Homo sapiens: one gene and its partners. The protein of the gene in region 2 interacts with the protein of the main gene of each other region in a pairwise test. Each region holds a gene or a part of one and is shown on either strand. Other genes may lie near its edges. The genes, in order: ELOA, LZTS1, SPDYC and TBC1D1.

The links.
Region 1: the proteins of LZTS1 (region 2) and ELOA interact in binary tests that used the Homo sapiens proteins (3 or more experiments, as listed by UniProt).
Region 3: the proteins of LZTS1 (region 2) and SPDYC interact in binary tests that used the Homo sapiens proteins (3 or more experiments, as listed by UniProt).
Region 4: the proteins of LZTS1 (region 2) and TBC1D1 interact in binary tests that used the Homo sapiens proteins (3 or more experiments, as listed by UniProt).

What each region holds. Positions count from the first base shown.
Region 1 is NC_000001.11:23,753,457-23,760,478, forward strand, and holds part of ELOA (elongin-A), read left to right. Parts: intron 1-643; coding exon 644-799; intron 800-906; coding exon 907-1,004; intron 1,005-2,386; coding exon 2,387-2,567; intron 2,568-2,817; coding exon 2,818-2,929; intron 2,930-3,496; coding exon 3,497-3,669; intron 3,670-6,055; coding exon 6,056-6,117; 3' UTR 6,118-7,022. UniProt on the Homo sapiens protein: SIII, also known as elongin, is a general transcription elongation factor that increases the RNA polymerase II transcription elongation past template-encoded arresting sites.
Region 2 is NC_000008.11:20,300,960-20,308,250, reverse strand, and holds the start of LZTS1 (leucine zipper putative tumor suppressor 1), read left to right. Parts: upstream 1-4,287; 5' UTR 4,288-4,511; intron 4,512-7,291. UniProt on the Homo sapiens protein: Involved in the regulation of cell growth. May stabilize the active CDC2-cyclin B1 complex and thereby contribute to the regulation of the cell cycle and the prevention of uncontrolled cell proliferation. May act as a tumor suppressor.
Region 3 is NC_000011.10:65,165,587-65,173,237, forward strand, and holds the start of SPDYC (speedy protein C), read left to right. Parts: upstream 1-4,646; 5' UTR 4,647-4,675; intron 4,676-5,740; 5' UTR 5,741-5,771; coding exon 5,772-5,913; intron 5,914-6,356; coding exon 6,357-6,415; intron 6,416-6,659; coding exon 6,660-6,745; intron 6,746-6,847; coding exon 6,848-7,019; intron 7,020-7,097; coding exon 7,098-7,428; intron 7,429-7,596; coding exon 7,597-7,631; 3' UTR 7,632-7,651. UniProt on the Homo sapiens protein: Promotes progression through the cell cycle via binding and activation of CDK1 and CDK2. Involved in the spindle-assembly checkpoint. Required for recruitment of MAD2L1, BUBR1 and BUB1 to kinetochores.
Region 4 is NC_000004.12:37,894,074-37,901,095, forward strand, and holds part of TBC1D1 (TBC1 domain family member 1), read left to right. Parts: intron 1-7,022. UniProt on the Homo sapiens protein: May act as a GTPase-activating protein for Rab family protein(s). May play a role in the cell cycle and differentiation of various tissues.

The DNA of each region.
Region 1 (7,022 bases), on a different chromosome or scaffold from region 2:
GTGTTACATAGGATTTTTGTCTGAAAGAAAAAAATGTCTAATTTTCATAGCAAAAGAAGTAGAAGCCACATAAGGGTCTATCAGCAGGAGACTAACAGATAAATCATGGTTCATCTACACAGTGGCATCCTATGCCACAGTAAAAAAAAAATGTGGAAAGTCTATGCACTGACATGGAATGATCTCTCAGATGTGGCAAATGAAAAAAAGCAATGTATGTAGTGAGTATGTTATTAATTGATTCATTGGCTTAAAAGGAATAAGATACATTTGCTTTTTTTTGTTGTTGCTGTTGAGAGTCTTGCTGTGTTACTCAGGCTGGAGTGCAGTAGCTCCATCTTGGCTCACTGCAGCCTCCACCTCCTAGGTTCAAGCAATTCCTCTGCCTCAGCCTCCTGAGTAGCTGGGACTACAGGTGCATGTTGGGCAGGCTGATCTCGAACTCTTGACCTCAGATGATTCATGTGCCTTGGCCTCCTAAAGTGCTGGGATTACAGGAGCTTATTTTTAAATTCTCTGGAAGGATCTACAAAAATCTGTAGCGTGGATTGCCATTGGGAAAGGGAAGTAGGAGGCTGAAGGGGGTAGAAGGAGAGTTTTCACTGGATCACTTAGGGCCTTTTGTGTTTTTCTTGCCCTATAGCGTTCTCTTCACCCCAGGAAGAAGAAGAAGCTGGATTTACTGGGCGCAGAATGAATTCCAAGATGCAGGTGTATTCTGGTTCCAAGTGTGCCTATCTCCCTAAAATGATGACCTTGCACCAGCAATGCATCCGAGTACTTAAAAACAACATCGATTGTAAGTCACACGCTTCTCTCTAGCTCTCAAGCACATTGTAGCACTTGGACCTTATCACTGGGTGGCTTGGCTGCTACTCAGTGTCTTCACCTTTGGTTTCTCTGCAGCAATCTTTGAAGTGGGAGGAGTCCCATACTCTGTTCTTGAACCCGTTTTGGAGAGGTGTACACCTGATCAGCTGTATCGCATAGAGGAATACAATCATGTGAGTATTCTGTTTGGGTGGGAAGAGGGCAGTTTTCTGGCTTGTACCTCCAGAAATAGCTTTGTCCCTGTGACTCCGCTGTGGCTGAAGGGCAGATCAGTGGTCAGAGCATTGTTCTGGATATATTTGGTTTGCCACTGGGCCTTTAAACAAGCATGTTATTAGCACTTGCTCCTGGCACCTTAAGTGGGCCTCTTGGGCTAGGATCAGGGTGGGATTCAAAGGGAGAAGAAAAACACTTAACATCTCCCTTGAGCTTGCCTAGTCATGAAGGTAAAGGGAGAATTCTGGCAGCAGAGTAGCTGGGACCCAGGGCGGGGAAAGCACTTTGTGTTGACACTCTGACATCTGGTGATTGGCTGGATGTCTCTTAAGAAACATCAAGATTTATCCAGAATCCTCCTTAGGATGTAGGGTATACACATTTGATTGCATCAGCTGTCTCTCTTTAATTCTGAAAGTTCTATGACCTAACACCTTTTTTTTTTTTTTTGGAGATAGGGTCTACCTCTGTTGCTTCGACTGCAGTACAGAGGCCTAATCATGGCTTACTGCATCCTTGAACTCCTGGGCTTAAGTGATCCTCCCAAGTAGCTGGGACTACAGGCACATACCACCACAGCTGGCTAATATTTTTATTTTTTAGAGAGATGGACTCTCAGACTCTTGGCCTCCTGAAGTGCTGGGATTACAGGCATGAGCCAACGCGCCTGGCCAATAACTTAACATCCTTCTTAGGTTGCCCCTTTGCCATCACAGTTCAGCGTAGTGTTGGGAAGTACCTGATTTGACTTGATCGCAGTTCTACCCTTTGCTGATTTTCTAAAGGAAAAGACTGATGTTACACAGATTTTTGTGATATTCTGTCACAGCCACCAAAAGCAACTAGCATAGTGCCTCACACTTCGCATTTTTAAAATTTAGGGAGTTATTTTTTTCCTAGAATTGTGGTATTTTAACATACTACTAAGATGAAGACCAAAAAATTTTTGGGAAACTGGTCACTCCTAGGTAATTAAATAATCAGAAAAAGATATGAGGCTGGGCATGGTGACACACGCCTGTAATCCCAGCACTCTGGGAGGCCAAGGTGGGCGGATTATCTGAGGTCAGGAGTTCGAGACCAGCCTGGACAACATGGCAAAACCCCATCTCTACTGAAAATATAAAATAGCTGGGCGTGGTGGTAAGCACCTGTAGTCCTGGCTACTTGAGAGGCTGAGGCGTGAGAATCGCTTGAACCCAGGAGGCAAGGGTTGCAGTGAACCAAAATTGCACCACTGCACTGCAGTCTACACGACAGAGCAAGACTCTGTCTCAAAAAAAAAAAAAAAATATGGAAAAGTGCTTGTACACAAATGATGTCCTGGTTCTGGTTTCAGGTATTAATTGAAGAAACAGATCAATTATGGAAAGTTCATTGTCACCGAGACTTTAAGGAAGAAAGACCCGAAGAGTATGAGTCGTGGCGAGAGATGTACCTGCGGCTTCAGGACGCCCGAGAGCAGCGGCTACGAGTACTAACAAAGAATATCCAGTTCGCACATGCCAATAAGCCCAAAGGTAACAGAGACGGGAGAGCTGGGGGAGAACTGGCAGGATGAGTGTTCTGGTCAATAGCAGGGTGTTGGTGGGCTTGGCTGGTGTAGGACTGCTTGCCCCTACATCAGGTAGCAGGGTGGGTATTTCTTCTGCCACCGCCCATTCTACCCTACAAGTGGGGTTTCAGGGCACTCAAAAAGCCCGTGGATTATTTAAATAACAGTAGCATCTCTGCTCAAGAAGGCAGATGTTCATCTCCATAATTCCACAGGCCGACAAGCAAAGATGGCCTTTGTCAACTCTGTGGCCAAGCCACCTCGTGACGTCCGGAGGAGGCAGGAAAAGTTTGGAACGGGAGGAGCAGCTGTCCCTGAGAAAATCAAGTAAGATCTGTGTTCTTACCTGGCTTTTGTGTGCTATCAACCCTTAGAGGTAGCCATAGCGGCAGGAAGCAAATTGCTTTTGGTGAAAGTGAGGCAGTGCAGACTGTGGGCTCTGGAGGCAGACCTCATCAGCTCAGCACTTCCCTCACCTCCCTCAGCCTCCGCTTCTTGGACTGCAGTGCAAGGTGATAATTACCCCTGCCCTAGGGTAGTCAAGATTAAATGGAGAGCAAAGCCTGGCTTATGGGAAACATTCCCTTATGCTTTCCCTTTTCCCATCTAAACAAAAAACACATTTCTGCAATGATTGTTATTTTGTCTAAGCCACATTAGCCTTTTCAAAATACAGATTTATACCAAAACAGTGAAAAGTTAGTTGAGATTATCATTTTTTCTGAAAGGATAATGGAGACATCTCTGAGCCACCACCAGAATCCAGGGTGATAGGGTCCATTGGTCAAAGCCACAAACAGGGTGAGTCATCCTCACACAGGCCAGCTTCAGGCTGTTCATGCTCAGGGCAGATTTCTTGTGCTCATGCCTAACCAGTGTTGTCCTGTGTTGCAGGATCAAGCCAGCCCCGTACCCCATGGGAAGCAGCCATGCTTCCGCCAGTAGCATCAGCTTTAACCCCAGCCCTGAGGAGCCGGCCTATGATGGCCCAAGCACCAGCAGTGCCCACTTGGCACCAGTGGTCAGCAGCACTGTTTCCTATGATCCTAGGAAACCCACTGTGAAGAGTAAGTAACTTGGAGTTCCTGCTCAAATATTATTTCAGCACTAGTTTTTAACTCTCAATGTCATTATTCACTGTATTACATTTTGTGGACTGCATGTTGCATGTACATGATGCCTTGCACATAGCTGGTCTGAATGTCAGTCCCTCCTTCCCCCTGCTTTGTCCATAGTGCATTATATCTCTTAAATAGTTATAGTGAGTCTGGGTGCAGTGGCTCATGCCTGTAATCCCAGCACTTTGGCAGGCTGAGGCAGGAGGATCCCTTGAATCCAGGAGTTCAAGACCAGCCTGGACAACATAATGAGACCCTCTACAAAAAATTAAAAAATAGGGCATAGTGGTACACACCTGTAGTCCCACCTACTCAGGAGACTGAGGTGGGAGGATTTTTTGAGATGGAGTCTCGCTCTGTCACCCAGGCTGGAGTGCAGTGGCACAATCTCAGCTCACTGCAAGCTCTGCCTTCCAGGTTCATGCCATTCTCCTGCCTCAGCCTCCCAAGTAGCTAGAACTACAGGTGCCCACCACCATGCCCACCTAATTTTTTCTATTTTTTAGTAGAGACGGGGTTTCACCATGTTAGCCAGGATGGTCTCGATCTCCTGACCTCGCGATCTGCCCGCCTTGGCCTCCCAAGTGCTGGGATTACAGGCGTGAGCCACTGTGCCCGGCCGACCCTGTCTCTGGAAAAAAAAAAAAAAAAAAAGTGAAAGTAGAAAATAGTATCTGGCCAGGCATGGTCCCTGTCTCTATTAAAAATAGAAAAATTAGCCCACCATGGTGGCATGTGCCTATAATCTCAGGTACTCGGGTGGCTGAGACAGGAGAATTGCTTGAACCTGGCAGGCAGAGGTTGCAGTGAGCTGGGATTGTGCCACTGCCCTCCAGCCTGGATGACAGAGTGAGACACTGTCTCTAAATAAATAAATAAATATCATTGTGAATGACCATTTTGGCACTCTTCTTTTTTCACCTAAATATAAACTGACTTCTCTAGGCAATACCACAGTGTTCATAATTACTAATATTAACAGCTAAATGACAGGCCCTCTTACTGTTTTTTTATAGTCTTATAACTCTAGCTTCCAAATATTTATTCTTTATATCTAATTGGGTCTTCCAATTTATTTATTTATTTTTTTTTTTTTTTTTTTTTTTTTTTTTTTGGAGACAGAGTCTCACTCTGTCGCCTGGGCTGGAGTACAGTGGCGTGATCTCGGCTCACTGCAACCTCCACCTCCCAGGTTCAAGCGATTCTCCTGCCTCAGCCTCCCAAGTAGCTGGGATTACAGGTGCCCGCCACTAAGCCCAGCTAATTTTTTGTATTTTTAGTAGACACGGGGTTTCACCATGTTGGCCAGGCTGGTCTCGAACCCCTGACCTTGTGATTCGCCCGCCTCAGCCTCCCAAAGTCCTGGGATTACCAGCGTGAACCACCATGCCTGGCCGGGTCTTCCAAATATTTATTCTTTATATCTAGTTGCGTCTATTTTGTATTTTGTTAACTTTATTACCATAGACTATCCCCAGTATCCTAAGGGGATGTCCTAACTTAAGTCTTATTCTGTATTAATTGCAGGGCCCATGGGAGGGTGGGAGTCCTGGCTTGAGCTACAGCTATGCTCAGATGAACCATTCAGGAGGCAGGCTGGCCTTCCTTAGGCAGTACTTGCATAGCCACCTTAGACCTGTTTCTACACTGGACAGATTGGGGGTAGACGTGCTGTTTACTGGTTTGGCTATTTGTGAGGCAAAGTTAAGTTATGACTGAGTATGGCCTTTAGAGTCTGGCAAGGGCCGGGGCACAGTGGTTCACACACACCTGTAATCCCAGCACTTTGGGAGGCTGGGGTAGGAGGGTGCTTGAGCCCAGGAGATCGAGACCAGCCTGAGCAACATAGTGAGACCCTGACTCTACAGAAAATAAAAAAAAATTAGCCAGGCATGGTGGCACACTCCTGTAGTCTCAGCTACTCTGGAGTCTAGGAGGTAGAGGCTACAGTGTGCTGTGATTGTGCCAATGCACCCTAGCCAGGGTGACAGAGTGAGACTCTTTCCTTACAAAAATAAAAACAAGAAAGTCTGACAGAGATTGAATTGTAATTCTGTACCTTACTGTACAACCATGGGCAAGTTGGCCAGGCTCTCTGAGCCTTGGTGCAGGTGGTTAGAGAGAGTGGTGGTCATGCCCCTGGCAGGTCCTCCGAAAGTGTCTGCTCTGTGCTGTTGCTTTTATTGCATTGTGAACAGAGGAGATAGTTACTACTTGTATCTCTGCCTGGTGGTGCACAGCCAAGAATAGCAGAGCTGGCTTTGACTGTAAACTACTGGGGGTGTGTCTAAGCCGCCACAGATCTGAGACAGCTGCCTTGTTTCTCTTTTCACAGAAATTGCCCCAATGATGGCCAAGACAATTAAAGCTTTCAAGAACAGATTCTCCCGACGATAAACTGAGGACTTGCCTTGGAAATGGAATCTGGGGAGGCAGGAATACAAGGACAGTGGGGGTTGGGGAATGGAATTCTACAGGAGACTGGAGTCTTGCTTTGTGGATCCTTTTGGTCTCCGAGTCCTGCAGTCTGCAGGTGCTGCCCCTGGGAACCTGCGTGCCACAGCCCCGCCTCCCTGCCTGGAGCACACTTTAGAATTCTGAAGATGTGAAGCCTCTGTCTCACTGAGGATTTTAAAGGTCAATTATACTTTTGTTGTTCATTAGCATCTTTGTAAACTATAAGACGTAGTTTTAATTAATAAATATTGCCCCCAGATTGTATTTATATTATCCCCCAGGTTTGTTTTTGTTTTTTGTCCTCTACCACACATTTAGCCTTTTATCTTCCAGGTCCTTATTAAAATCAGATGAAAGCCTAGTGAAAGCCAGTCTCCTGCCCCAGCTCAGCTCTGTGTGGACTCTGGTCCAGACAGAGGACTGGGCATCTCCAGAGCCTGCACAGTACCTGCTGCACGTAGGGCAAGGAATGAGCACTAGACCGCCTGTCCCCAAGGGAGCCTCAGTGGGGCGACAGGGTGCTCGGCGGACTCCACCTCAGGCCCTCCCCACTGTTGCTGTGCATTCCTGTGCAGGTGCATCTCTTTCTTACTAACTGGTATTTATTAAGGGAGGTGCTCTGTAGGTCTGGAGCCTTTCCCTCATCCTTTTTGCGAGTCCCCACCTTTTTGTTTTTTTTTTTTTCTTTGAGGCTCACTAGAGGACGCAGAACCTTGGGAGATTGATTTGCACAGAACTCCCCACCTCCCACTTTTACAATTTCCAGTTTCTGATTGAAAATTTTAGGGTTTCTCCCCACTGCCCTTCCCTATCTTTCCTTCCCCTCAACACCATGAAGGAAAAAC
Region 2 (7,291 bases):
CCGGGCGTGGTGGTGGGCGCCTGTAGTCCCAGCTACTCGGGAGGCTGAGGCAGGAGAATGGCATGAACCCGGGAGGCGGAGCTTGCAGTGAGCCGAGATGGCACCACTGCACTCCAGTCTGGGCGACAGAGCGAGACTCCGTCTCAAAAAAAATAAAAAATAAATAAATAAATTTAAAGAAAAAAGAGATGGTCCTTCCAATTCAGAGACAAGTCTCCTGAAGCCCAGAGATAAGAGATTCAAGGTGGTCAGAGACCTACAGGTAAGGAATGAAAATTCTTGTTATAAAAGTTGCACATTCAAAGCAACTCCACGGGAACTGTTTTCTACCCTGGAAAAAGACAGGGATGGTAAGACATCTTCTAAGGTCATGGGACCATTGGCTCTGACTGCAGAAAAACTGCTCTCCCTGGACCTTTACTGGGGTCACTGGGAAATCAGGAGTGGCCTCAGTTGATTCCTTAAAGCTTTGCTCAGTTGTCTAGGCTCATATTTTTTCACCGGCTTTTGGAGATTATCCAACCTCACTTAAATATAGTCAGCATTTCTTTTCTCTTAACACAAGGCCCTGGATTTTGAGACTTGAAATAATATTAAAAAATTATTTGATATTTTGTATTTTTCATAACACCTTTGACTTTATTAATTCTTTTCATTTTGTATTGTTGCCAAAAGATAGATAGGGAAAATGTTATTAGGCTTCTTTCACTGATAGCAAACTAAACCTCCAAAGGGTTGTGAGAAGACTGCAGATTGGAAGAAGTAGGAATACACGTGGATTTTCTGAATTTGAGTCAATTTATCTCTCTGAAACATCATCTCGCCTCCCTCCCCTCATAGCACTCATTCTAGTATTTTTTGAGCGCTTGCTTTGTACCAATAATGTGCTGAGTTCTGTGGATTCAATGTTGACTAAGACAGACATGATCTTTGAACAAGAAACTTGCAGAAGAGATGAACAGACAAACAAGAAGCCAGGGAATTAATTAAATTGTGATAGGTGACAGTACCTTGAGGAAGGCAGAGTTGTCTGTAATCCAAACAAGCTGCTGGCTTAACTGGTCTATGGGTCTGGTCCAGTGTGGCCAATCTTAGGTCCTAGAGATGAAGCATGATGCTCTGTATCTCAGGTGATGAATACAGGAGGAGGGTAGGAGATTTTTACAAGAAATGTTTTGTGACCCAGCTTTCTAGACTCGACTCAGGCAAGGGAGAGCCTGAGGGATGCAGAGTTTCACATAAGACACCTCTCGGGAACCCAGACACTAAGGAAGGGCAGCGCCCCTTCACTAGACAAGGAAGAAAAGGAGCCACACTGAGAACCTACCGGTGGTGTTGGGGGTAGACACACCCAGCCATTGCATTACCATACCCAACTGCTGAATCAGGGAGCTAATTATGGCTTTGTGCTGCTGGAGACCACATTCCTGAGGCTTTCATGCACACATACGGAACCATAATACATACACACATGCTGTGCTGTCCATCACTGGTCTCCTTCTCCACTCTGCCTTCTCATTTCCAGCCCCACTCTCTATGCATTCTGTCTCTAAAGTATCCCTTCCACAGGGTGTTTCTGTTGTTCCATAGGGTATCCCATTTCCACCGCTCATACACAAACCAACACACTGCTCATACCCTTTGCCTGACTCAGTCATTCCAGGAAGGCTGCACATCATACCCAGCTTTCACCTAGAATGTCACTGACAAAGGTGTCAGTGCTGAAGGAGGGTCCTTAAGGAGTATCTTCTCATCCAAACCATCCACTTTCCAGATGAGGAAACTGAGGCCTCATCAGGGACTCCAAACCATCCACTTTCCAGATAGGAAACTGAGGTCTCATCAGGGACTCCAAACCATCCACTTTCCAGATGAGGAAACTGAGGCCTCATTAGGGACATGGCTTGTCCAAGAGCATATAGTCAGCAGTAGGGCCAGAACAAAAAGTGGGCTTCCAGAGTCCTTTGTCTCTTCCATGGAATCTCACCTCCGACGATGTGAAAATGAGTTTGAAGTCTGGAGCCCACCTCATACCTTAATCTACCTTCCAGGAGTCTGCTCTTTCCTTAAAGCGCTGGAATGTTTGATCGATATTAACTCATTCAGCTAAAATTCTTGAGATACTCTCACCAGCAAGCAAGAATACATGTTCTCTGTCAATAAATGCAACACAAAGAAGCATGGCGCTTTAGAAAAAGAAGACATTATTTTGCCCTGGACGATAAGAGAAGGTGTGAGTAAGGGTTCCATATTTTGTCTCAGATTTTGAGAGGTAGAGTTAGAAGAGCAGGAGAAAAGCTTTTCAGACTGAGGGGCAGGTTTATACAAAGGTGGGGAAAAGGAGGTGATGTTCAGGAAAAGGCTGAGTAGCCTTTGGGGTTGACACTTAGAAATTGTCGTATTGCTTGTAATTACTGCCACGTGTATGTACTTACCGCAAGGCAGTGGGTTTCATTTAATCATCAGAACAAACCTATACATGAGAAATTCATTCATTTAACAAATACATATTGAGTGCCTACTATGTTGCCTGGCAAGTTCTAGGTGTCGGGGATACATCTATGAATAAAACAGACCAAGTCCCTCAGCCACCAATAAAAGAGAACAAGTTCCTGCCTTCAGGGAATTTACACTGGGACTTGTTACCTCATTTCACAAATAAAAAAAGAAAGAAAGAAAAAGAAAAACTGAGAAAGAGGGAGGGGAAGGTAATGGCTCAAATAACAAGCAGCGAAGCCTGTCTGTGTTCTTAAACCCTCGCGGTGCCATCTTTCAGGAAGCCTAGATTCGAAGGTCAGAGTCTTCAGGGTCAACAACCGAAGGCAGTGAGATTCCCCTACAGGGTTTTGAGCAGGGGTGTGGCAGAAACCATATGGCTTGTTTTCCTTTGAGCTGTCCCCCCTGCCACCACAATTCTATTTAATTTTTTTGTATTTATTTATTTATTTATTTATTTTGAGACACGGTGTCACTCTGTCACCCAGGCTGGAGTGCAGTGGCACTATCTTGGCTCACTGCAACCTCTGCCTTCCAGGCTCAAGCAATTCCCAAGCCTCAGCCTCCCAAGTAGCTGGGATTACAGGCTCCTGCCACCACACCCAGCTAATTTTTGTATTTTTTTTTTTTTTTTTTTTTAGTAGAGACGGGGTTTCACCATGTTGGCCAGGCTGGTCTTCAACTCCTGACCTCAAGTGATCCACCAACCTCGGCCTCCCAAAGTGCTGAGATTACAGGCATGAGCCACCGCGTCCGGCCCCCATGCTATTTATAATCAGATCGGCTATGTCAATCCTAATCCATTACATCTATCCCCCACCCCCCAACACACACACACACACACACACACACACACACACACACACACAGGCTTCTTTCAAGATGAGGCTAACACTCCTTGGGCAGAGCTGCCATCTTCCCGCCAAGCCTGGTTTTAGAGGATTAGCCTCAGTGCACCCTCAAGCCCCCAAGCCTCATGCTGCACCTAGCACTCCGGTTAACTGACCCTTTGTCCTACAAAACCTTGTAAGCTTGAATCCTCTCCTGGCTCAGTTGCTAGAAGTTAAAAGTGAGGGTGGTTGAGAAAATGATAGTATTATAAGGGGACTGGGTGAGACTAATAGCTATAAACTTGAAACAGGCCTCTGCTGTCACCTGAAACTCAGCTCCCTCAGAGCTGGAAAAGTTTGCTTTTGACATGTTTTGGGAGTGGGAGTCCCGGTGCTCTGGACTCTAGCCTGTAATCCTGGTGTGGTTCGCAATGCCCCTCACTTGGGTGCTAGTCCAGTCCTTGAACAAAACACACGCCCTTTAGTGCGAGTCGGGAGCGGGAGAGACGGTATTAAGAAAAATAAACTGGCGATTAAGAGGAAGGGGTAATGAAGAAAGGGGAACATACACAGAACGGGAGAAGGAATGGATTTTAAACAAAACTGGAGTAAGAATTTCAGGTAATGAAAGGGAAAAAAGGATGCGACAAGAGCAAGACAGGAACAATCGGAGAAAGGGGGCCAGGCAAGAAAGGAAGACTGAGGGGGCAGGGTCGCCCAATGGGGCTGATGGAAGTGAGAGCAGAGAGACGGGACCCGGGACCCCGCGCAGGCCGCGGGCGCGAAGGAGCCGCGAGGTCGCGAGCAGCCCCAGCTGTCAGCCCGGAACAAAGGCCGCCGAGCGGCACAGACCAGGCTGCCGGCAGCTCGCTGCCAATCAGCGGCGCCGGCTCTGGCCCCGCCCCGGGCCGGCCCCGCCCCGCCCCGCCCCGCCCCGCCCCGCCCCGGCTCCGGGACCCGCGCAGAGGCCGGCGCGCCTGGAGCTGGCGGGTTGGCAGCGGCCGGGCGGGGAGGCCGAAAGTTTCTCTGCCCGCCTCGGCCAGTGAGTGGGAGCCGGGAGCTGCATCCCGCGCAGTGGGACCGGCCCGGCCCGCTCAGCAGCTCTGGAAAAAGAGAGACGGGAACACACCGGGAAACACTGGGAAAAAAAAAAAGTCTCAAGTGCGCCCGAGGCGCAGGGGGCAGGTAAGGTGCGGTGGCCGGGGATCTCCTCGCCCCTGGAGGGTCTGCTGCCCTGGCTGCGGGAAACCGCTTTCCCCTCGCCGGGCCGGACCGTCCGTGCGTCCGCGCGTCCGTCGGTCTTTGTCTGTCTGTGTCCGTGGCTGTCGAGGTGTCTTTGTCTCCGCGTGGAGCTGTCAGGGTCTCCCCTCTGCAGGGTGGGCGCCGCTTCTCCGGCCCGGCCCAGAGGAGGTGACTGTGCGTCTGTCCTCCTGTCTTTGTCTTCGTGTCTCCTGCAGACGGGGTTCGTCTATTCCCAGCACCGATGCTGATCCTGGCGGGGACGTCAGTGTTAGGTGACACTGGTGTCGGAGGTGAAGAAGTGGGAGGTGGGGACGCGAGGCCGCAGGAGCAGGGGCCGCAGGAAGAGGGTCCGGCGGTCGGTCCGGGCCGCTGAACTTCGCCGCCTGGAACTTTGCAGATGAGCTGTGTCCACACCGGTGGGGAGGACACCGGTGCGTTGCAGCCAGAGATTTGAAAGGTTTCCCTCAAGGAATAAGTCACACGGGCGGAGGTGGTTAGAGAGGAAGGTGGTAAATCGAAGTGTCTAAGTGGCTCCCTGGGGCTGCAGCTTCCTGGGGTCGGTCCTGGATGTGCAATTCAGGAATTTAGTCAAAGCACCATGCACACACAGACAGCCCCACACTACCTTCACTTCTTCCACCGCCACCCTAGGCAGCCAGACCTCACCCCTCCACCCTGCCACAGGCTTTGCTCTGGCTGGAGGGGCTTCAGAGGTCGCAGCTTGGCAGCAACAGGCATCCCCGAGACACCAAGGGCCAGGTGATGTCTCTTTTTCGTGCTCCAAGTGGAAAGGTTTGAACTGTGGAGCAAATGAGCCTTGTGCTCGCCCACGAGTATGTCAGGCCTGGGAAAGTGCTCCAGACTTGTTAGCTTCGCAGTCTTCAATTTCCCAGGAATAAGAAGTGCTTAGGGATCTGGCCTCCTAAAGTGTTTCCTGTCTCACTTATTCCCTCCACACCGTCCCGCTGCCATCAGCCCCTCTACTCTCTGGTCCCGGGCGCTGGGAAAGTACTGAGGAGGCACTGAGTTCTGGACCATGCCGGGCAGGCGCTGCTCCTAATAAGGATCCCACACTCTGCTGGAAGTGCAGCCTAATAGGAATGCTGGGAGCCCAGGAGCCCAGCCACAAAGAGATGAGCTATCTGCTTGGCAGTTCCTGCACCAAGACCCTGAGAAGAGTCTGCGGGTACCGGCAAGAGGGTGTTTGCAACCTGAGCTTTCTCTAAGTTCAAAAACAATTTTCTGCAGGCATCCAGAGGGAGAATGGAGGTGCCCGAAGAGTGTGCGCATATGGGTATTAGAGATAGCATGTACAGACGGGAAAGGTGTTTGTGTTTAAGAGTGGAGTGGAACATAGTCTGTGGGTAGAAGTCTGTGGGCAGAGAGCATGCAGGCTAATCAGGCGTGGCGTTACACCTTGTATTTATCCAGCGCTTTTCTTTGGAGGCTCTTTCTGCTCATCATAGACGTTATCTCATACGTTATCTCCTTTATCCTCACAACATAACTACCAGGTTGGTGCGGTGGGCTCTCTGTGCCTGCCAGTGAAGAAACGGAGGCGTCAGAAGGGAAAGGCTTTCCCTAAGGTCCCACAGCTAATAGGATGGAGCAACTGGGAGTCCTAGTAAGAGGTCTCAGCTGGGTGGATGTGAGTGTGGGGCGCTCACTCTGCTTAAGAAGAGAAGAAAACTAGTAGAAAAAGAACGGGCATCTCTGTGGGTGTCTATATGCAAGCAAAAGGGAGGGCGGGACATTTGATGTGCTGAAGATGGTTGTTAGTTAACATTTATAGCAGCGGCTGTGTGCTTCACGAGGTAAACCTGTCTCAGCAGTTCAGCTTGTGCATTTGTGTATCTGCAGGAGGTGCCCCCAGCTGTGTGTGCCTGGGTCGATGTGGGGCAGGGGTGCTGTCATAGAAGGAGTGCTGCTGCGTGGGGTGCCCTGGGGAAAGCCAATGCTTTGGGAGTGTGTGAGGGAAAGATGTGCCTTTCAGTTTTGAGAAGCCGTGGGTCAGCGTGTATAGCAAAGCTATACATGGGCTCCAGACGTATATAAATGGCTTTCTAATCCTGAAAACTTATTTATATGCCTTTGCGCTTATTCAACGTTCATTTCATAAATATTCATTGGGCGCCTACCAAATGCAAGGCTCTGAGCTGTGCAGCGAGGCTAGGAAGATGAATAATGTAATGATGACAGACCTATGGGTAAGCACCTTATAGACCAGTGTAATGGATAATACCGTAACACTTAATGCCAGCCACTAAATCCACTGTGTGCCTGGAACTTTTTATTCATTATCTCATTTAATTTTCACTGCAGCCCTGCGGGGTATGTATAATTATTAGATGAGGAGAGTTAAGTAATTTAGCCAGGCTACAAAACCGAGGGGCAGGGATTTGAGATCAGCTTAGTAAGGTTCTGGACCCTGGCTCTGTCCATGTTATTCTGCTACCTTTGAACATAGAAACACTGTTTCTTCTGCATGGAATATTCCTGCCTGGTCTCTCTACCTTCTCCACTTAACTGGCTCCCACTTTTTTTTTTTTTTTTTTTTTTTTTGAGACGGAGTCTTGCTCTGTCGCCCAGGCTGGAGTGCAGTGGTGCGATCTTGGCTCACCGCAACCTCCACCTCCTGGGTTCAAGCAGTTCTCCTGCCTCACCCTCACAAGTAGCTGGGACTATAGGCGCCTGCCACCACGCCTGGCTAATCTTTTATATTT
Region 3 (7,651 bases), on a different chromosome or scaffold from region 2:
GTTCAGATGGTTTAGAAGCTTTTTATTTGTTTGTTTCGGTGTGGGGGTGGGTAGGGTTTTGTGTTCTCCCATTGCTTGGTTCTCTTCGGACCCTCAATTTCTCCCTTCTGCATTTTCCCACTTCACTTACTCAATTGCCCACGGATGCTTCTGGCCCATTTTAGCCCTTTTTTTTTTTTTTTTACCCCTCCCGCGGAATCAGTGGACTTTAACGACCTCCCCTTCCTATCGCACATACTTGTAAGCCCCTTCCCTGAGGTCTGAGCTCTGACTTCCCAGGACGTCTTCTTGGTATTTTCAGATTTTAGAATGTCGCAGTCTTTCTGATAGTTGCTCTCGACCAACCCCAGCCCGGATCGATACTCCTTTCTCCCCTCCTTCCCCAGCTTTTCTTGGCACAAAGCCTCGTGCCTGGGAGAGGCCGCAGCGCACGACGGCGTGCGGGGATATGGTCGCTTTCTTTTTATTTACATTTATCTTGAAGTTTGGACCTTCTCTGCTTTCAAGTTATGCCGACGCTGTGGTTTTGGCAGCGTTTTATTTTTCCTTTCTTGTTGTCTGGGGCTGTGTGGACAGCAAAAGTTGGCGGATGGGGACCCAGGCAGCCCCTTGGGCCTCAGGACCCGGAAGTCCCCCTGGCTGGCTTGTGACTTTTTAAGATGGAGTTCAGTTCATCAGCGTGACAGCTTTTCTTATTTTCTAACACGCGCGTTTGAGGTCATAAATTCCTCTCTAAGAATTACTAGTTGTGTCCTCCAACTTTGACAGACAATATTTTCTTTCTTTCTTTTTCTTTTTCTTTTTCTTTTTTTTTTTTTTTTTTTTTTTTTTTTTTTTTTTTGAGACGGAGTCTTGCTCTGTTACCCAGGCTGGAGCAGTGGCGCGACCTCCGCTCACTGCAACCTCCGCCTCCCGGGTTCACGCCATTCTCTTGCCTCACCCACCTGAGTAGTTGGGACTACAGGCGCCCGCCACCACGCCCGGCTTTTTGTATTTTCAGTAGAAACGGGGTTTCACTATGTTGGCCAGACTGGTCGCTAACTCCTGACCTTGTGATCCGCCTGCTTCGGCCTCCCAAAGTGCTGGGATTATCGGCGTGAGCCACCTCGCCCGGGTACATTTGATTAATTTTTAGGAAGATGTTCTGTGCGTGCTTTCCTGCCTTTGTTGGGTGCAGTGCCAGCTTATTCGTCCACTAGGTCAAATTTCTTCATCATATTCTTCATATCTTTTACTGCTTTGCTAACTTTTTTGCCTTGCATGTGCCATCATATCTACAATTATGATTGTGATTTGTTTTTCCGTGTGGTTCTGTTGATTTTACACACACACACACACAGACACACACACATGCGGTTTCTTGCTTATTGACTTTATTTTTAGGAGTAAACAAATTACTATATATTTTTTTCTTTACCTGGATTCTGGTTAGGTAATTATACACTTTTTTTTCTTCCTTCCTTCCCTCCCTCCCTTCTTTCTTTCTTCTCCTTCCTTTTTCCTTTTATTTTTCTCTTCCTGCCTCTTTCCTTTCCTTTATTTTCCCTCCCCTCCTTCCCCTCCTCTTCTTACCGACAGGATCTCCCTATGTTGCCCAGACCAGCACTACAGGTGCACACCACCACATCCGGCTGTATATTTTTAAAATCACTACATAAATTCTCTTTCTCCCTAGTTATGCTTTTTGTCCAAAGTTGTGTTTTTTTGTTTGTTTTTTGTTTTTTTTTTTTTTTGAGACAAGTTCTCACTCTGTCACCCAGGCTGGAGTGCAGTGGTACAATCTTGGCTCACCAAAACCTCTGCCTTCTAGGCTCAAGCGATTCTCCTGCCACAGCCTCCCAAGTAGCTGGGATTACAGGCATTCGCCACTACCACCCACCTAATTTTTGTATTTTTAGTAGAAATGGAATTTCACCATGTTGGCCAGGCTGGTCTTGAACTCCTGACCTCAAATGATCTACCTGCCTCGGCCTCCCAACGTGCTGGGATTACAGGCATAAGCCACCGCGCCCGGCCTAAAGTTGTTTTAATATATTAGTGTAGTTATCCCAGCTTTCTTTTAGTAATTGCATATTATTTTTTCTATCTTTATATTTTGAAATTTTTAATATTCTTATTTATTTATTTATTCATGTTTTAGAGACAGGGTCTTGCTGTGTCACCCAGGCTGGGTAGAATGGCATGATAATAGCTCACTGCAGCCTTGAACTCCTGGGCTCAAGTGATCCTCCCACCTCAGCCTCTTGAGTAGATAGGACTGCAGTCACGTGCCACCATGCCAGGCTAGTTTATTTTTGGTAGAGATGGGGCCTTGATGTATTGCCCAGGTTAGTCTCTAACTCCTGAACTCAAATGATCCTCCTGTCTCGGCCTCCAAAAAGTGCTGAGATTATAGGCGTGAGCCAATGGACCTGGCCATATATATATTTTTTGAGCTGGTAGTATGTTATTATGTTTTATGTGTATTCTTTTATATCCTTTTACGTGTATCCTTTATAGCATGCAATATTAATATATGATTTTACAAATTATATATACATTTACATGAATATAAATTTTATAAATAGTATATTAGTTAGCATAGAATAAATTTTGCTGTGATAATTGTAGCAGGCAGAATAATGGACTCCCAAAGATGGCTACATTTCACTTCCCAGACCTGAGAATATGTTATCTCACATGGCAAAAAAGACTTTGCAGATGGTTAAGGATCTTTTTTTGAGACCAAGTCTTGCTCTGTTGCCCAGACTGGAGTGCAATGGCATGATCTCAGCTCACTGCAACCTCCACCCCCAGGGCTCAAGCAATTCTCCTGCCTCAGCCTCCCGAGTAGTTAGGATTACAGGCATGCACCACCATGCCCCGCTAATTTTTGTATTTTTAGTAGAGGAGGGGTTTTGCCATGTTTACCAGGCTGGTCTTGAACTCCTGACCTCAGGTGATCTGCTCTCCTCTGCCTCCCACAATGCTGGGATTACAGGGGTAAGCCACCTCTCCCAGCCAAGTTAAGGATCTTGAGATGGGGAGATTATCTGGGCAGATTGAAGAGCCCAGTGAATCATGGGATTCTGAAAAGTGAAAGAGAAAGGCTGGGCATGGTGGCTCATGCCTGTAATCCCAGCATTCTGGGAGGCCAAGGCGGGTGGATCATGAGGTCAGGAGAACAAAACAAAACAAAAAAATTGCCAGGCATGGCGGCACATGCCTGTAGTCCCAGCTACTCGGGAGGCTGAGGCAGGAGAATTGCTTGAGCCCTGGAGGTGGAAGTTGCAGGGAGCCGGGATTGGGCCACTGCACTCCGGCCTGGGCAACACAGCGAGACTCCGTCTCAAAAAAAAAAAAAAAAAAAGTAAAAACAAATATTCTCCCCAGTGTGGGAGATCGGTGTCAGATCTCCAGGGGTGGCACTGAAGGAAATCAGCCTGAAGGCCCTCCCAAAGTTAAAGTGACTAGCCCACTCCCAGGCTTCTTTTTGGTACACCTTCCTGATCTCTAACCTTAATTACTGGGGGAGGAGGAGAACAGTTGAAAACACAGCTGGTCTAGGAGATTCATTCGGTTTCATGGAACACCTTCTCTGTGCAGGCAGCGTCCAGGAACAGCTGTAGACCACACAGCCAGGCTACCCAGCGTGTGGGCCCAGCAGCCAGGCTGGAACTCTATCTCTACTTACCAGCTGAGTGGCTGGCAGGAAGTTACTCAGCCTGTCGGTCAGCAACCCAAACTCTGTGTGTTAGTTGTTTGTTCGCTGACAAAATGAGGCTTCTCATCATTCTCATCAACTTCACGGGCTTGCTGTGAGGAACACGTGAGCTGATTCCATCACAGACTCCTCAGTAGGCAGCAGTAGGTGTTTAGTGAACGGGCTATGGATGCTGCCCCACTCACTACTTCCTTTCTAGGGGAGGCCGACTTCAAATGCGTGCACACACACAAACAGGATGGCCTGATGCAGACCAGCTGGTCTAGAAAGGCCTTCACGGCCTCAGGGAGCCTGGGAGGCGGCCTGGGGGAGACCATGAAACAGCAGATACACCAGAGACCAGAGATCAGAGAGAAAACAAAGGACCCAGAGATCCACAGACATCCAGACACCAGAGGCAACAAGAAACTGAGAGACTCAGAGGCCCACTGAGACCCAGGCAGCTTGTTCTGTGTTACGAGGGGAAAAATAAAATAAGAAACAAAAGAGAGACTCGGGGGGCCTCAGTGAAACCTAGAGACTCAAGGAGGCCAGGAGATTCAGAGACACCCATAGAGAGCCAGAGACCCTGCCCTAGCAAGGCACAATCAATGAAAAAAAACTCGCCCACCAGGCCCTCGCAGTCCGGGTCTCATATCCCGGCTCAGCACCTTGGCGCTGCATTTGTCAAGAGGGGAACAGGGATCCTAGCTCCCTGCCTGTCCTATGGGGCCTTAGGCCCTGGGGTCCAGCTGGCCTGCCTTCACCCCTCTTGTAGTTGATGAAGCTTTGGAGAGGCTTTCAAACCCTGGGGAGCCACAGCTGGGTGCCGACTGGACTCACTGGCAGAGAGGCAGGCGGTGAAGGCCAAGCCTCGCCCCCCAGGAAGGCCCTGATTGGTGGACGGGCTGCTTTGGGCAGGGCCGCCCTCAGGCTATATAAGCGCACTCGCGGCGGCGTTGGTGTTATGCTCTGGGCCATTCCTGAGCTCGGGTAAGGCTCGCTGCAGGAGGAGGCTGGGTTGCTTGCGGGCGCCTAGATGGAGGGGCCCAGATTGGCCCTGGGGTGGTCGACCGCACGTTCTCCTCGGCCCCGTGGTTGGCTTCTCTCTCTCAGGGATGAGGGTGGGTTTAGGACGGGAGCTTGAAATGTTTGAAGTGGCCCCATCAACTTGCTCTAAATCCAGGTATTTTTCTAATTTCATTCCTCCCTGAGGGCCTCAGTTTCCCCTCGGTGTAAGGGATCAGTGGCCCTTTCAACTCTGCTTTGGTGAGGGGTCGGGGGTGGTTGTGAGTTGGGGCCTAGAGGAGCAGTTAAACTCTTGGGTTTTTTTTTTCTTTTTTTTTGGCCAGGCGCAGTGGCTCACGCCTGCAATCCCAGCACTTTGGGAGGTCAGGAGTGTGAGACCAGCCTGGCCAACACGGTGAAACCCTGTCTCTACCAAAAAAATACAAAAAAAATTAGCCGGGCGTGGTGGCATGGCGCATGCCTGTAATCCCAGCTACTCGGGAGGCTCAGGCTGGAGAATCAGTTGAACCCGGGAGGCGGAGGTTGCAGTGAGCCGAGATCGCGCCACTGCACTCCAGTCTGGGCGACAGAGAGAGACTGTGTCTCAAAACAAACAAACAAAAACCAAAAAACCTCTTGGGGTTTTGGAGACCAAGGGCTTCACTTTTAACCGGCTGTTAGGCCTCAGCTTCAGTTTCCTCGTTTGACGACCGGTCTGAGTTAAACTTACCTCCTTACCAGGATGGAATAAGATAAGGCCCTTAAGCACAGCCCCAGGCACTTAGGAAGCCCTCAGCGGTGCTTGTTGCTGCTGTTACTCTGGCCTGTCCTGGGGTGCCAGGAGGAGGGTGAGGGTGCCACACCCTCACCTATAGCAACTCTTTGCTTCTTTTCTGGCCTCCCCACTCTTGTTGCATCCCGGCTGCCTTCTGTTCTGAGCCCCCAAGTCTCTGCACCCACCCCTCCACCGTCCTGGCCCCTGTCACCACCCTCTTGATTTGTGAGCATCACGGGGGTACATGCTAAGTCCTGAGCCTCCTTTCTCTACAGGTCACCCTGCCCCATCTCCATCTCCTATGAGATGAGTGACTCCCAAGACCCCACCACTTCCCCTGTAGTTACCACCCAGGTAGAGCTGGGGGGCTGCAGCCGGCAAGGTGGGGGCAATGGGTTCCTCCGTTTTCGCCAGCACCAGGAGGTCCAGGCCTTCCTCAGCCTTCTGGGTGAGTTTGGAGGGCTGGCACGGGAGGGGCCGTGAGGTCAAGTGTGAAAGCAGATGTGAAGTGTGGGGTCTCACCTGCCTGTACAGACATCTGAGACCTCTGACCCTCTCCCTCTCAGGTATCCCAGCTTAGGCAGGTGGGAGGGGTGTCCTCTCAGAAACTGGATTCAGGGCCAGGCACCGTGAGTCATACCTATAATCCCAACATTTTGGGAGGCTGAAATGGGAGTATCACTTCAGGCCAGGAGTTCAAGACCAGCCTGGTCAACATAGTGAGACTCCATTTCTATTTATATTAAGAAAGAGAGAGAGAAAGAGAAAAAGGGAGAAAAAGAGAAAGAGAGAGAGGGTTCAGTGGTGGCTTGGGCTTTGGAGCTTCTGATGCCACTCTTCTCCATGGAGGTGGTGGTAACCTGCGTCCTGTCATGTCTTCTCTACCCTCAGAGGACAGTTTTGTCCAGGAATTCCTCTCCAAAGACCCCTGCTTCCAGATTTCAGATAAGGTGAGGGAGTACAGGCTGGGGGTCTCTTGAGGGTCAGGTTGAGTTGGTGGGAATTGAGTGCCCTGGTCTGGTAGGGAGAGCCACTCACCTTCCATCCTTACCCCCTCATCTTTGCACACCACTTCCCACCATTTTACTGACTTTCTTTCCCTGCAGCAAAACCTCCCTGGGTGCAAATGAACCTGGGTGCAAGCCCCTCCTCCTCAGAGAATAACTAACCCCCCACCCCGATCTGTCTCTGCAGTATCTCCTGGCCATGGTGCTGGTCTACTTCCAGCGCGCCCACCTGAAGCTCAGCGAGTATACCCACAGCAGCCTGTTCTTGGCCCTGTGAGTGGTGGGGGCAGGCAGTGGAGGCATTTGCTGGAGGTGTCAGATGGGACAGGGCAGATGTGTGGCCTCTGCTCCCTGACCTTGTGCCTCTGTGGCTAGGTACCTTGCAAACGACATGGAGGAGGACCTGGAGGGCCCCAAATGTGAGATTTTTCCATGGGCCCTGGGAAAAGATTGGTGTTTACGAGTGGGGAAATTCCTGCACCAGAGGGATAAGCTTTGGGCACGGATGGGTTTCCGGGCTGTTGTGAGCCGCCAGTGCTGTGAGGAGGTGAGGCTGGGAGGCAACCTGGGGTGTGGGGAAGGCTGGGGTTCCCACCCCATTTACTGTCCACTCTGCTCCTCCCAGGTCATGGCAAAGGAGCCATTCCACTGGGCTTGGACTCGGGACCGGCGCCCCCACCATGGTGGGGTTCAGAGGGTCTGTCCACAGGTCCCTGTTCGCCTTCCCCGGGGCCCTGGCCTCTCGCCGCCCCACTGTTCCCCCTGTGGTTTGCCCCAGCACTGCAGCAGCCACTTGCTTAAGCCTGTGTCATCCAAGTGCCCTTCTCTGACCTCTGAATGTCATCGCCCTCCCTCCCAAAATTATCTCTCAAGGGTCAAAAACGCCTGGGGTGGGGACTTTCTCATCGTCTTGCCTCCCCAGATGCAACTGGAACCAGGCACCTACTCCCTCCGCAGTGAGTGCAGGATGGGACAGGAGCTGGGGGCTGGTGTGGGAGCTTGGGAGGCAGGAGTGAGGACCAACAATATGAGAGAGAGGGCCATGGGCCTGGGGTCGACGTGCTGCCCCTCCCGTGTGAGCTTGGCAGGTTTCTTCTCTGAGCCTCACTCTTTCCTCTCCCCAGTCTTCCCAAAGCCTCCGGCACGCCCTGGGCACTGAAGCTCTGCAGGGTGAAGAAC
Region 4 (7,022 bases), on a different chromosome or scaffold from region 2:
CGCCTCCTGGGTTCAAGTGATTCTCCTGCCTCAGCCTCCCAAGTAGCTGGGACTACAGGCGTGCTCTACCACGGCCGGCTAAATTTTGTGTTTTTAGTAGAGGCGAGGTTTCACCATCTTGGCCAGGCTGGTCTTGAACTCCCGACCTTGTGATCCACCCGCCTTGGCCTCCCAAAGTGCTGGGATTACAGGTGTGAGCCACGGCGCCCGACCAGTTTTTGACATTTCTAAGCCAAAAGTTCCATTTGATGAGGTCTTAGATGCAGGGGCAATGTGTCCCTTTTCAGATTTCAGATGTTTAGAAAAAGATGTGTCATATTTGGGCCAACTGAAAAACTCTTGATATGTAGGTTTTTATGAAGCTGTGCAGAATGTAGGAAATACATTTTAGAACCAACAAAGAGGCATTTAATTTTGAGTGTGCCTGTCTCCTTTGAGATGAGCAACAGCTATTTTTCTCTTCAAAAGACAATGCGTGTATTTATCAGCACATTTTATATAATCAGCAAATCTAAACCTCTGAATTAGGTAAGCCCTATAGGTTTGTTGCCAGAATTAGTGAATTTATACATGCAAAGTGCTTAGAACAGTGCCTGGTACACAGTGAGCACTCAATATTATTTATTGCTATTATTATGTTTATTTATTTTATACTTTTAGAGTATAATTTTGATGTTAGGTTTGGATTGCTGAGGCCAAGCAAAATTTAGATAGACCAACCCAGCTAATCCACTAGAAAGATATTTGAGGGTTATTCCCATCTAAAGATCTATGGGATCTTTGGATATCATCTGTGAGAAACAACAGAAGTTTGTAGATAAGACAGATATAGATTCAAATGCCACCTTCACAATTTATTAGTGAGGGAACCCTTTGGTAAAATGAGCATGACAAAACCTACTTCTCAGCTTTGTGAACGTACAGAAGATCATGAATGTAAAATGTCCATGAAGTGGTAGGTGGTCAACAGATATTGCTCTAGCAAAGTGGTTAAGAGCAAGCAAACTCTGGAGCCAAAGGGCCTGGGTTCAAATCCCGATTCTGCCACTTCTTATAGTATGGCCTTGGGCAGGTGACCTCACTTTTCTGTGCCACTATTCAATGATAATATTCCTTTATTGTCCAACGTTTTGTAAGTTAAATCAGTTAATAAACACACTATGATAATGTGTTGGTAACTATTCTTTTTACTTTTAGCAGAATAACTTAAAGGAACACTGCAGGTAGGAGGGTTATACATAATCTCTGAGGGCCAGCTAGGACACTCGCCCATTTCCCACCCTTTTTCCTGTGCAATGAAGAGTATAAGAAGTGACAGTGCCATTCTAAAGGACTAGCCTTGAGTTGGCTCTAATTTATATGACTCGTGCCTGTAATCCCAGCACTTTGGGAGGCCGAGGCTGGCAGATCACTTGAGGTCAGGAGTTGGAGACCAGCCTGGCAAACATGACGAAATCTCATCTCTACCAAAAATACAAAGATCAGCCGGGCATGGTAGCACACACCTGTAATCCCAGCTTCTGGGGAGGCTGAGGCAGAAGAATTGTTTGAACCCAGGGGGCGGAGGATGCAGTGAGCTGAGATCACGCCACTGCACTACAGCCTGGGTGACAGAGTGAGATTCTGTCTCAAATAATAATAATAATTTATATGAGAAAGAAGTCATTCAAAAGCATCATTACTTTACATGTCAAATTAGAAAGGCACACCCCAGTACTAAAGCATCCTTGATGATGAAAACATTTAGAACCACTGGTTTCAGGAGCTCCATGCAATGGTGAAACAGCCTCTACTCCAAGGGTTGTTGCTCCCTGTGGGATTCCTGGGTGAGGAACACACTGCTCCCGTTGGGGTGGAATCCTGTGGAGGAAGTGGATGAAGAGTGTAGCCAAGTCAGTGAGCCTACTGCATGGGATTAGAGTACTTCAGGTTGCAGTATAATTCTGTTCAGGTGCATGCTCACTCCATCTGGCGTAAAGAACAGAGAAATTAAACCATTGATTCACAGAGCAATATGAGTAGCTGCCTGGGGACTTCCTGTCCATTCTGGGGTCCCCAACAGCCAATCAATATTGGCCGGTTCCTAATCTGACCTAGAGCTAGAGGCCACTAGCACCCCTCCATTCATCCTTTCTTCTCTCCCTACCCACTCCCACCAGCATTCTGAGGAGGTGAGGGCTGAAGCTGCAGAGGCTGTTGTACTGTCAGTTACTGTAAAGTCCCCATCCTGCTCTCTGTAGTTTGCTGTGAAGGAGTGGAGGGGGCTGGGAACAAAGGGGGTTCCCAATAAGCAGCTTACTAATACCTACCCTTGCTTCTCTCACTTCCTGATCAATAATTCCCATCCTTTCTTCATGTACCTCCCCCACATTTTTGTTCTTTAAGGGAAGAAGGGAGCAGCTTTCCATCCCCACACAATGTTGGGGACATTTGGTATTATACATTATGAAAATAAGATTTACCAGATTTTAGAGATGGAAGAAAACTTGGGGATGATCTTGTTCCATTCTCTTATAAGAACAAACAATATTTGGAGAAGCTGAGTAACTTGCTTTTTCAACTTCACACTTGAAAGTGTTTTCATGAGGAAGTTGGGGTTCTCTGCAGCACTTGGATGGGAGTCAGGGACTTGGATTGTCCCAATTCTGTCACTAAATTTGGACAAGCCACTTAACTTTTCCAGAATCTAGTTGCCTCATTTCAAATATTAGGGAAATTTCTAAATGGCTTAAAAGGAGCTTGTTAGCTTTAAAATTTTATGATTCTAAGTGTATGCTGCCAGAGATATGTAGCATAGCAGGACACATTAACAAGATTATTGAAACTGTTCTAATAAAGGACATCTTTGTGTCTTGGGTAGCTACTATGTTTAAAGACTGTGCTAGGTGGGAGTTGTGCAGAATACACAGGTTTGCTGTAGAGGGATAGGGCGTGTACACAGACAACTCTACTAACAAGAACGTTACTAGAAGCTTATTGGAATCACAGTATTTCTTGCTGAGGGTATGAAACATAAGAGTTCTCCTTGGAATATGAGGTTCTATTTGGGGCTTAAAGAATGGTCAAAGGTTGAGTGCAAATAACATGGATTGAGATGGCTTTAAAAAATAATCAAATGGTTTGTTAGTATTAAACTGGTGCAGAAATAATTGCAGTTTTTGCCATTCCTTTTAATGGCAAAAATTGCAGTTACTTTTAAACCAAATCCCTAATATTATTTGCATAGTTTATCTCTGTTATGGAAGTTTTTATTGACAAGTAATGTAGATATTCACCTGATCTAAGTTACCCTGAATCTTATATTAGCAGAATCTGAATTGCTTATAAATAATTATGGCTATGTTGGATGTAGAACTTATTATTTGATAGTTTATGAACAGTGCTAAGGTCTAATCTACTTTTTACAGAGAAGCTAAGAACATGCTACAGCTGGTTGAAAAACAAAAACTTCAGGCATTGAAATGTTTTGTCAATGAAATGGCAGGACTCATTTGATGACTGATTATTATCAACTGATTTAAATGACTGAATTTTTGGTACTGTGTACATCTATACTCTAAGAAGGAAATTGAAAGTAATTCTGCTATGCTTGTTGCCACTATATTAATAACTGCATCATCTAAAATAATTGATAGAGCTCAGATTTATCCTTTGTAATAATTCTAGTACTTCTTTAAACATGTTTTGGGATTAGCAGCTGTCAACAGTTAGAACATGAAACAGATTCTGTTACAGGAGTAGAAGTCGATCCAGACATTTAATGTCATTTTCACCTGTGAGAGAGAGAATAAAGAGAAAGAGAGATCATTATTTATGGGATTATGTGAACTTCAAGTCCGTTTTCATTATTAGGAGAAGCTGTGCTTTAAAGGACAGTCAGGGACTTTACTTTCATGAAATGCCTGAGCTGTAAATAAAGTATTGCTTTATTTTTTATTTCTTGAACATTTGAAATAAAAAATTAGCTATGAGTTATGTTCAAATTATATTATAAAAATTTGCTCTTAGCATTGTGCATATATATTATACAGAAAAACACAGAGTAAAAAGAATAGACTTCAGTTCCTGTTCAGAAAAGGTTTAAAATTTGAATACTGATTTTGGAAACCCCAAACCTTAAGAATTCAAGAAGCTTACGGTCTTCTTGAGGGACACCTATTCAAACTCTTAAATATGGTGATTGGGTAGAAAGTGCAGAAAAGCCTGCTGATACATGCCCTAAAACACCTTGGAAAAAAGAGGTGGTAGTTGCTTGAGGTAGGACTTAAGTACTAGTTGGAAATAGAAGACAAGGATGGAGACTGTTGGTAGATGACTCTCCATGGGTCCTTCCTGTTTCTACACACCTTGTAAGCAGGGCATTGAGTGCCTGTGTTCCAAACTACCTTTTCCATCATGTTTCTACAGCAAACAGTCATGGAAGATAGAAATAGAGTCTTCCTCTGGAGCAAAGGGCAGACACGCTTGCTTCCTGTACTTCCCACTATAAGATATTCCGGCTCCCTAAACTCAGCTGCCTTTCCTGTAACCCACCATGATACAGATGTCACCTGACCTGTGGGAATTGGGGGTCAGGGAACCAAGAGAAATGCTGACTGTCTGGCTACTGTGACTGCCCTGAGTAATAAATTGTCCTTCGTCTCCAACCCAGGAGTCTCATGTTTTCTACCAGCAGGATAACTGTGGCGGGCTAACGTGTTAGTTTGCAAGTAAGGTAAAATCTCAGACCCTTTGCAGTTTGTGGCAGGGATTATATTCTGAGGAGAGAGGAACCGTATGCACCATGGCTCAGAGGCATGAGAAACGGGGAACCATAACTAGTTCTCTATCTTCAGAGCCTTTAAAAGGTGCACCAAGGAGGGCATTTTAGGGGAGAATATAAAGTTGGAGATATAGACACAGCCAGATTCCTGAGAGACCTTATATGCCAGGTAGAAGACTTCAGATTGTATGGGGGAATTATTAGAGAATTTTTAGCAGGGGTGTGATATGATAAATTTTGTGTTGATTAAGTTACTCCAGGAAATATGCGATGGGTGGATTGAAGGATGGGGCACCTTTTCTCTAGGACGAAAAAGAAAGAGTAGTTGGTGAAGTCAGTTAGAGGTAGTAATAGGATGAAGAAGGGATCTGAATGACCCCTTGGCCATTCAGTGAGTAGTGATGCTATTCACCTAGATACAGCACATAGGAGGGAAAAGAAATTCTGGGAAGGAGGGAGATGAGACCGAGTTAGCTTTAAAATAACTAAATTCAGGCCTAGGAGCCTATAGGCTATCCAGATAGAAATATTTAATGGCCTATATGGATCTGGAACTCAGGAAGGAGGCTTCCGTGGGAGCAGAACACTTGGGCACCATTAGGGTGTATGTGGTAGATGCATTCTTGTGCAGCAGTCAAGGGGATGGGATTTAGACTCAAGTGCAAATTGCCCCCCATCTCCTGTGATAAGTGACTGAAGCTCTCCGGGCTTCAGTTTCCTAGTTCATCATAGTGGGCTCTAGCGGATAAATGTTACAAAGGTTAAATGAGACAACATAGGCAAAGTGCGTGGTACTCAATAGAAGTCAGCTGCTGTCATCAGCAGCAGGATCACCAGAATGTGGTGCTTGACACCAAAAGATTAGGTGAGATTGCCCAAAACAGCAGGTGAAATGAGGGGAGAGGATGAAGTCAAACACAGGAAGAAAAGCCTTTGAAGTATGTGGAAAGAAACAACCAGAAAGGTAAGATAAGAACCAGAAGAGATTCAAGAAGGAAGGTGTGGCCGGGCGCGGTGGCTCAAGCCTGTAATCCCAGCACTTTGGGAGGCCGAGGCGGGCGGAACACGAGGTCAGGAGATCGAGACCATCCTGGCTAACACGGTGAAACCCCGTCTGTACTAAAGATACAAAAGAATTAGCCGGGCGCGGTGGCAGGCGCCTGTAGTCCCAGCTACTCGGGAGGCTGACGCGGGAGAATGGCGCGAACCCGGGAGGCGGAGCTTGCAGTGAGCCGAGATCGCGCCACTGCACTCCAGCCTGGGCGACAGAGCGAGGAGCCGTCTCAAAAAAAAAAGAAAAAAAAAAAAAAGTAAGGAAGGTGTGGCCAAGATTGAGAAATTCGTCAGAGCAAACAAGGCAGTCAGGGGCTAAATAGCCTCCTTTAAATTTTACAACCTTGAGGACCTCGGCAACTTTAACAGAATTTCAGTGGATCCCTAGGGCAAACCAGGCCTTACAAACCAGGAATGGATGGTCAATAGGAAGTGGAGACAGTAAGTGTAGACCTTACCTTGGAGGGAAGGAAGAGAAAGAGCCATGGCCAAGGGAAGTTTGAAATCAAAGGAAATATCTTTTTTTTTTTTTTTCGATTGGAGAGACCTCAGTTATTCTTTTAAAATACTTATTGAGCCCCTCAGTTATTCTTTTAAAATACGTATTGAGTCCCTACTTTGAGTCAGGCACTATGGCAGACACGAGGGAGATAGCAGTGAATCAGACAGATGCAACGCCTGCCTTCATGGAGTTTCACCTTAGCATCTGTCCATATGCTAGGGGAGTGGGGCAGGGGCAGGGAGCTGGATACAGGAGAGACTGAAGATCCAGGGAGCAAGTGAGTAAAGAATAGGGCTTGAGATCCCACAGACAACTCAGCTTTGAACAAAAGGGTTTTGTCATCCAATAGGACAAGAAGGCGTTAGGATACATCAAACGTGGTTGTTGAAAACAGAAAAGGGCTGGGCACTGTGGCTCATGCCTATAATCCCAGCACTTTGGGAGGCCAAGGTGGGCAGATCACTTGAGGCCAGGAGTTCGAGACCAGCCTGGCCAACATGGTGAAACCCCATCTCTACTAAAAATACAAAAATTAGCCAGGTGTGGTGGTGCATGCCTGTAATCCCAGCTACTTGGAAGGCTGAGGCAGGAGAATTGCTTGAACCCAGGGGGTGGAGGTTGCAGTGAGCCACGATCGTGCCACTGCACTCCAGCCCGGGCAACAGAGCGAGACTCTGTCTCAAAAAAAAAAAAAGGAAGAAAGAA